2 linked regions of the Homo sapiens genome follow. The protein of the gene in region 1 interacts with the protein of each later gene in a biochemical or structural test. Each region holds a gene or a part of one and is shown in the gene's direction. Other genes may lie near its edges.

Evidence for each region. The genes of interacting proteins can lie anywhere in the genome.
Region 2: the proteins of JAM2 (region 1) and PATJ interact in a test that uses a peptide from one of them, tested with the Homo sapiens proteins (one large-scale study listed by IntAct).

Annotation. Positions count from the first base shown.
Region 1 is NC_000021.9:25,691,258-25,694,757, forward strand, and holds part of JAM2 (junctional adhesion molecule B isoform 1 precursor), read left to right. Parts: intron 1-921; exon of another isoform or gene 922-1,883; intron 1,884-2,498; coding exon 2,499-2,651; intron 2,652-3,500. UniProt on the Homo sapiens protein: Junctional adhesion protein that mediates heterotypic cell-cell interactions with its cognate receptor JAM3 to regulate different cellular processes. Plays a role in homing and mobilization of hematopoietic stem and progenitor cells within the bone marrow.
Region 2 is NC_000001.11:62,116,480-62,119,979, forward strand, and holds part of PATJ (inaD-like protein), read left to right. Parts: intron 1-52; coding exon 53-200; intron 201-652; coding exon 653-739; intron 740-3,500.

The DNA of each region.
Region 1 (3,500 bases):
ACTAGCTGTAAGGTGTTAATAGCACAGCTGTCTTCACTTGAATTTTTTGTAGTTGCCATTTCTGGCATATGCAGAAATGCAAAACTATTATTTTATGCAACACTATTTATTTGAGCCATTGTACCTGCCTAATTTTTACATTTTTTTAAAGAGATGAGATCTGGCCATGTTCCAAGGCTGGCCTCAATCTTCTGTCCTCAAGCAATCTTCCCACTCAGCCTTCCAATTGGCTGGGACTACAGGTGCAAGCCACCACACCGGGTGCAAAACACTATTTTAATTCTGAATATGTTACTATCAAAAAATAAAATAATGTTTTTAACCATCTTTTCTTGTGCCGCAGTGTTACGTGAGCCACCACACATAAAGTTACTGTTCCAGTCAATTAAACCAGACTCCCTGGTTTTCTGAAGACATGAATATTTTTACAAGGGAACTAGAAAGGGAATGAGGCAAGCATTTGAGCTCAATTCTTTAAAATATAACATGGGGCTGGGCACAGTGGCTCATGTCTGTAATCCCAGCACTTTGGGAAGCCAAGGCATGCGGATCACTTGAGGCCAGGAGTTCGAGACCAGCCTGGCCAACATGGTGAAATCCCGTCTCTACTAAAAATACGAAAATTAGCCAGTGTGGTGGTGCATATCTGTAATCCCAGATGCTTGGGAGGCTGAGGCATGAGAATGGCTTGCAGTAAGCCAAGATCACGCCACTGCACTCCAGCCTGGGCAACAGAGCAAGACTGTCTCAAAAAAAAAAAAAAAATTTACATACATAATGTGGAAGGGCCTCAGTGGCCAGGCCTGCTGGCAGCTGCTCCTCACAGGGCCCATGCTAGAGCTGACAGCCTGCCAGGGAGCTGGGCACTCGGAGATGGGGTGGGAGCACTGGGGTCAGCCAGAGATCAAACACGTCAGTGAAGGCCCAGAGCAGCTCGGAAGATAAAATAACAGTCCACTTTATAAACCAACAGTGAAACATTAACAAACAAAGGAAAAGTTGATGACTCTTTGCTAGATGTTGTGGTTGAAAATAATGTAGATATTGATGGGTTTGTTGCATGGCAGGGAACCTTGGCTTGCTCTGTCACCTCATTTTTGAAAAGCACATATTTGAGAAGTTAGACACAATCACTGACAAGGAGATTGACATGCTTGATCTGGCATATGGACTGACAGACAGGTCAGAGTTGTATTGCCAAATCTGTTTGACAAAATCTATGGGCCATATGACTGTCTGAGTACCTGATGGAGTGGCCAGTGCCAGACAATCCACTGATATGGGCAAGACCACCTAAGCAGAATAAATAGCAATGCTTTCACTAAATTTTACCTATTTTATAATTATTTCTTAATATAATTAAATAAAAACATACATGAATGAACTTATTATTATGACCAACTTTACTGTTTTAATTCACCTTGTATAACTACTGAATTTTATAGTTCTGAAAATACGCAATTTTTATATTTGTTACATTAGAAAAAGGTCAGTTAAATATTAGAAAATAATTAATATGACAATACCTTACAAATTTTGCCTTACGTTTGTTTAGCAACTTTTAGCAAAATGTTTTCACATGGCCTTATGTCTGCTTACCTAGAAAGTAAATTTTTTAAAAAAGATATTATTATCCCTGTTTTATGTGAGTGAAGGCAAAGACCTAAAATGGCTTGTTAAGGGCCATCCAACTAATTAGAAAATATGTACACACCTGCATCTTGTTACTATAAGGTATATGTTAGACTGAAACTGGAGAAATTATGACTATCTTACAGCAGCAATTAGATCTGACTGCATATGGACAAAAACATTAATTGCTCAGTGAACTGCTTAACTGACAGTTATTAACCTTACACATAAAGATTTCAAAATTTTGATTCAGTGAGAAGTATAAGGTTGAACATAGGCATTACAACACTGCCAAAAAAGTTAGCCAGTAAACTAAAATTAGATATCAAAATGAAATAAAATATGAGAATATAAAACTATGCTTTTTTGAATTTTTTTTTTTTTTTGAGACTGAGTTTCTCTCTGTCGCCCAGGTTGGAGTGCAGTGACACAATCTCGGCTCACTGCAGCCTCCGCCTCCTGGGTTCAAGCAATTCTCCTGCCTCAGACTCCCCAGTAGCTGGGATTACAGGCGCCCGCCACCACACCCAGCTAATTTTTTGTATTTTTAGTAGAGACAGGGTTTCACCATGTTGGCCAGGCTGGTCTTGAACTCCTGACTTAGTGATCTACCGGCCTCGGCCTCCCAAAGTGCTGGGATTACAGGCGTGAGCCATCATGCCTGGCCTTTTGAACATTTTAAAAACTGTCCTTTCCAAAAGAAAAATTTTAAATAACAGCATCTATATACAACTTTTAGGCTTTAAACTTGAGTTTATTAAAAGGGAAATAAATGCTTTGGTTACTAAATGAACTGATTAGAGGAAGGTATTACACAGAAAGCTACTTGGATTATTACTAACATCAATGTCTTCTTTTTCTAAAAGGTGATTTTAAAAATCGAGCTGAGATGATAGATTTCAATATCCGGATCAAAAATGTGACAAGAAGTGATGCGGGGAAATATCGTTGTGAAGTTAGTGCCCCATCTGAGCAAGGCCAAAACCTGGAAGAGGATACAGTCACTCTGGAAGTATTAGGTGATGTGCATGTATGTGTGTGACTACGTCTCCCACTCCTTCTCCACCACCCAGCCCTGGGGGCAAGCAAGCACTGGTCCATAAACATGCCAGCATCAACTGGGAGCCTCAACCAGTCAAGTTACAGAGACCATAAGCATCACCTTCCTGGCAATCTCCTGGCCATTTCTCCCCCTCTCCTCATTGGCTGCTGAAATTTTAGTAATGCGTTATCACAAAGTATCTCTTTGTTAAAGGTGGAGGCAATTCCTAATGATCCTACAATATACATAGGAGTATCTTTCCTGAGAGTTTATTTTTCAATAGTTTTCAGCATATACACAGTTTCTCCAACCATTTAAAGTAGTATCACATGAGATGGTGGAGAAGCAATAACACACAAAAAAGTAGACTGAAGGTAGGATTAGAAGTCATTTGGTAAATAAAGGAAATTGACATTGATTATATACCTGATATGTTAGCCCTTTTCACATAAGTAATTTTACTTCATCTTCATTAATATGATTTTTATAGATGACCAAATGGAAGTTAAATGATTTAACAAGGCCATACAGCTAGAAAGTGTCTGGACTAAGATTTGAATCCAGATGGGGTTAACTCCAAAACCAGTATGTTTAGTTTCTATAAGAATCATGGATAGATTAGGCACAGGGGCTTATGCCTCTAATCCCACCACTTTGGGAGGTTGAAGTGAGAGGATCCCTTGAGGTCAGGGAGATTGAGACCAGCCTGGGCAGCATAGTGAGTCCCCTATATCGCTCTCTCTAAAAAAAAATAAATAAAAAGCCATTTGTGTTGTTATGCACCTGTAGTCTCAGCTACTTGGGAGGCTGAGGCTGGAGGATTACT
Region 2 (3,500 bases), on another chromosome or scaffold:
GCATGGAAATATTAGGTTGTGCCAATACTGCACTGCTGTATGGTATTAACAGAAATGGAAGCGGAGTGTTTATTTCTGACATCGTGAAAGGCGGAGCCGCAGACCTGGATGGGAGATTGATTCAGGGAGATCAGATCTTATCTGTGAATGGGGAGGACATGAGAAATGCCTCACAGGAGACAGTGGCCACCATCCTCAAGGTGAGTTGCTAGGCTGCTTTTTACCCAGCTGGCACAACTGAAGTCCAGTGGGAACTGTTCCAGTCTAGCTTGATTATAAAATGGGTTGGATTTTATACTAACTCTAGTTTTTACTAGAAATTTAATCTCTGATTATTTTAAATGAGCCAGAATAGCTTTAAAAGAAAGTTCTGTTATATTGACTAACAGAATGAAAGGGAACCTGCTTTGGGATTTCACAAGCAAGTTTTTCATACTTGTGAGAATTCTAAGTATCCATCACTGTTCTTTAAATGCATTTGATGAGATGGGCCCTCCAGGAGCCACAGAATTCATCCTCCTCTCTCTAGGGCTATGCCTGTTGCTTTCATTACCCTTTTATAATTTGTGGCTGCAGGGAGAGGCTCTGTTAAGATATTTCAGAATATAAATGCTACTACTTTTCATTTCTGTTCTTTTCTTGCCTTTCCAAGTGTGCACAGGGACTTGTGCAGCTAGAGATTGGAAGACTCCGAGCTGGTTCCTGGACCTCCGCAAGGACGACATCACAGAACAGTCAGGTTGTCGATGGCTTCTCATCAGACTGACTCACTCTTCTGCCCCCACTGGGAGAAAGTTCCCCATTTAATAAATGGTTGTTTGGAAATAATATCTAATGTACAGCATATTCACAGCACCAAGTTTAGTGAACTTTCATGTGTTTGAAATAAAAATGAAAGGTGGGATGGAAATTCATTAATCCCTAGATTTTTCTCTCCTTTATTGCTTGCAAATGTTTTCTTGGAAGCTCTTTTCTCTCTATTAGTTCTATATTGCCTATGCACGCATGTACACAGCTGTGTTTATTTAAAAAAAAAAAAAGGCAACATCTGGTGGCAATTTGACCCTCATTAGCACAACATTGTTCTATTCATTCAATTAAATATTGCTATAAAGTTAACTTGTGACTAGCCACTCACACATGCCGAGGGCAATTAATGGCATATTCCTAGGAGAACCAAGTGTGGGGGTTTTTCCTGTGGGAGGGAGGGCTTAGTGGGTGATATTTTGTGGGTTAGCAAACATCTTATATTTATTTGCAAAGCTGATGTAAGTGCCATTTTTTTTTAGCAAAGTATATTTCACTATATTTTTTTCATTGTAATGGCTGACAAAATCAAGATGGTAGACTGTATGGTTAGCCCCATGTGGTACATAATGAGACTATAGAAACTTATATGTGACCCCTAAGTCTCCTCTCTGGGTTATGGATAGGCCGCCTTAGTTTTGAGGTTAAAAGCATGACTTTTGGTCCCCTCCCTGGTTGCCTTATTTCTGAAGCCTCTCCAAGGCCTTTGTTCAGAAGGTGCTCTGATCTTACAGTTAGCACACAGTTACTTCTGGAAAGCTATTAGCTGCCTCCTGTTCCTCACTGGTGTTAAAAAATGAGTGAGGAAAATACCATTGTTCAGATAGGATTACAGACTAGCTGGCTTGTCTTAGGGAATCTTCAAAGCAGTCAAACCCAATAAACACCATATTAAGTTTGAAACACTTTTTTTTTTTTTCATTTCTGGCTTACATAATGGGCAGCAAATATCTAAGACATGGTGCTGCTGTAGGATTCCATGAGTTAATAGTTAGTGATGATATTGACCAGACTTATATCAACAAACGAAACAGTTGTCTAGCCAGGCTTCTTCCTTAATGGAAGACTCATCTTTGTTGAATGATTTCATTAAAGCCTTATTGTATACAGAAGATTAGAATGAAGCTACACAGAGGAGGTTCCATTGAATCTCACTCCAAATGGAGTTTGGGGAAAAGAAGGAAAAGGCATCTCAGACAGGGAAAATAGCATACACAAAGGCACAAAGAGGTAACAGGTGTTTGTGTGATTTAAGAAAAGTTTGGACTGATCGATAGGTAAGGTAGTGGATAGAAATGGATTTCTGTCCCTCTTGAGAGATGTATGTGAGCATCTTCTTATTTATTTATTTATTTATTTTTGAGACGGAGTCCCACTCTGTTGCCCAGGTTGGAGTGCAATGGCGCGATCTCAGCTCACTGTAATCTTCGCCTCCCGGGTTCAAGTGAGTCTCCTGCCTCAGCCTCTCGAGTAGCTGGGACTACAGGTGCCCGCCACCACATCCGGCTAATTTTTGTATTTTTAGTAGACACGGGGTTTCAAAACATCTTGGTCAGGCTGGTCTCAAACTCCTGATCTCAGGTGATCCACCCACCTCGGCCTCCCAAAGTGCCTGGATGACAGGTGTGAGCCCCCGCGCCCAGCCGCATCTTCATAATTTTTAAGTTCACACTCAAAGACAGAACTACCAAATTTAGAAGCTACATCATTAAATATCAAAAAAAAAAAAAACCTATCGTCTCCACTTACCTGGTATATGAATGTGAGTTGTCATATTTTGGAAACCTGGGACAAAGTATCAAATACTTTGCCCTAATCTTCTTACACAGAATTTTAATTTCAGAGGGTAGGAGTTTAATTCAATTTTTAAAAACAGTAAATATATCTTATCATCACCTTGTGCTTAAAATTATGGGTGAGATAGAAGAGTTTGCCCTATTTGGCTAATTAGAAGAAGGCTGGTAGCCGACTGTGAAAAGGAAATGTCTTCCCATCATGATGAGTTGAAGACTGACCCTGGTGGGCAAAAACAAGATTCCATTGCCAAACATTTTTACATCCAGACCCATTTAAAAAATCAGGATCTTGTAGGAACACAGATTTCCTTCTGAGCAGTTACAAAATAGGGAGATCAATGCCTTCTTTTGAGCGCTAAGGAGAATAAGCTCTTGACTTAATTCATAGAAAGTGAGTTCATTAAGAGAGAAATAACTTCTAGCTTTGGGGCCACCAAGTGTCTTTTTTTAAAATGACTTTCCCCCAAACCAGGAAGAAATTTCCTTACTCCACAGAGGAAAAAATACTTGCGAGATCTTTTCCTCAGCCAACTAAGGGAACACAGTCAGGCAAAGTGTACTTTTATAAACGTCTTGGGGCCGGGCGTGGTGGCTCACATCTGTAATCCCAGCACTGGGAGTTCGAGGCGGGCAGATCACTTGAGGGCAGGAATTCAAGACCAGCCTGGCCAAAGAGCCTGGTGAAACCCTGTCTCTACTAAAAATACAAAAATTAGCTGGGCATAGTGGTGGGCTCCTGTAACCCCAGCTACTCAGGAGGCTGAGGCAACAGAATCACTTGAACCTGGGAGGCGGAGGTTGCAGTGAGCTGAAATTGCACCACTGCACTACAGCCTGGGTGACAGAGGGAGACTCCTCAAAAATTACAATACAATGCAATAAAGGTCTTGGCAAACA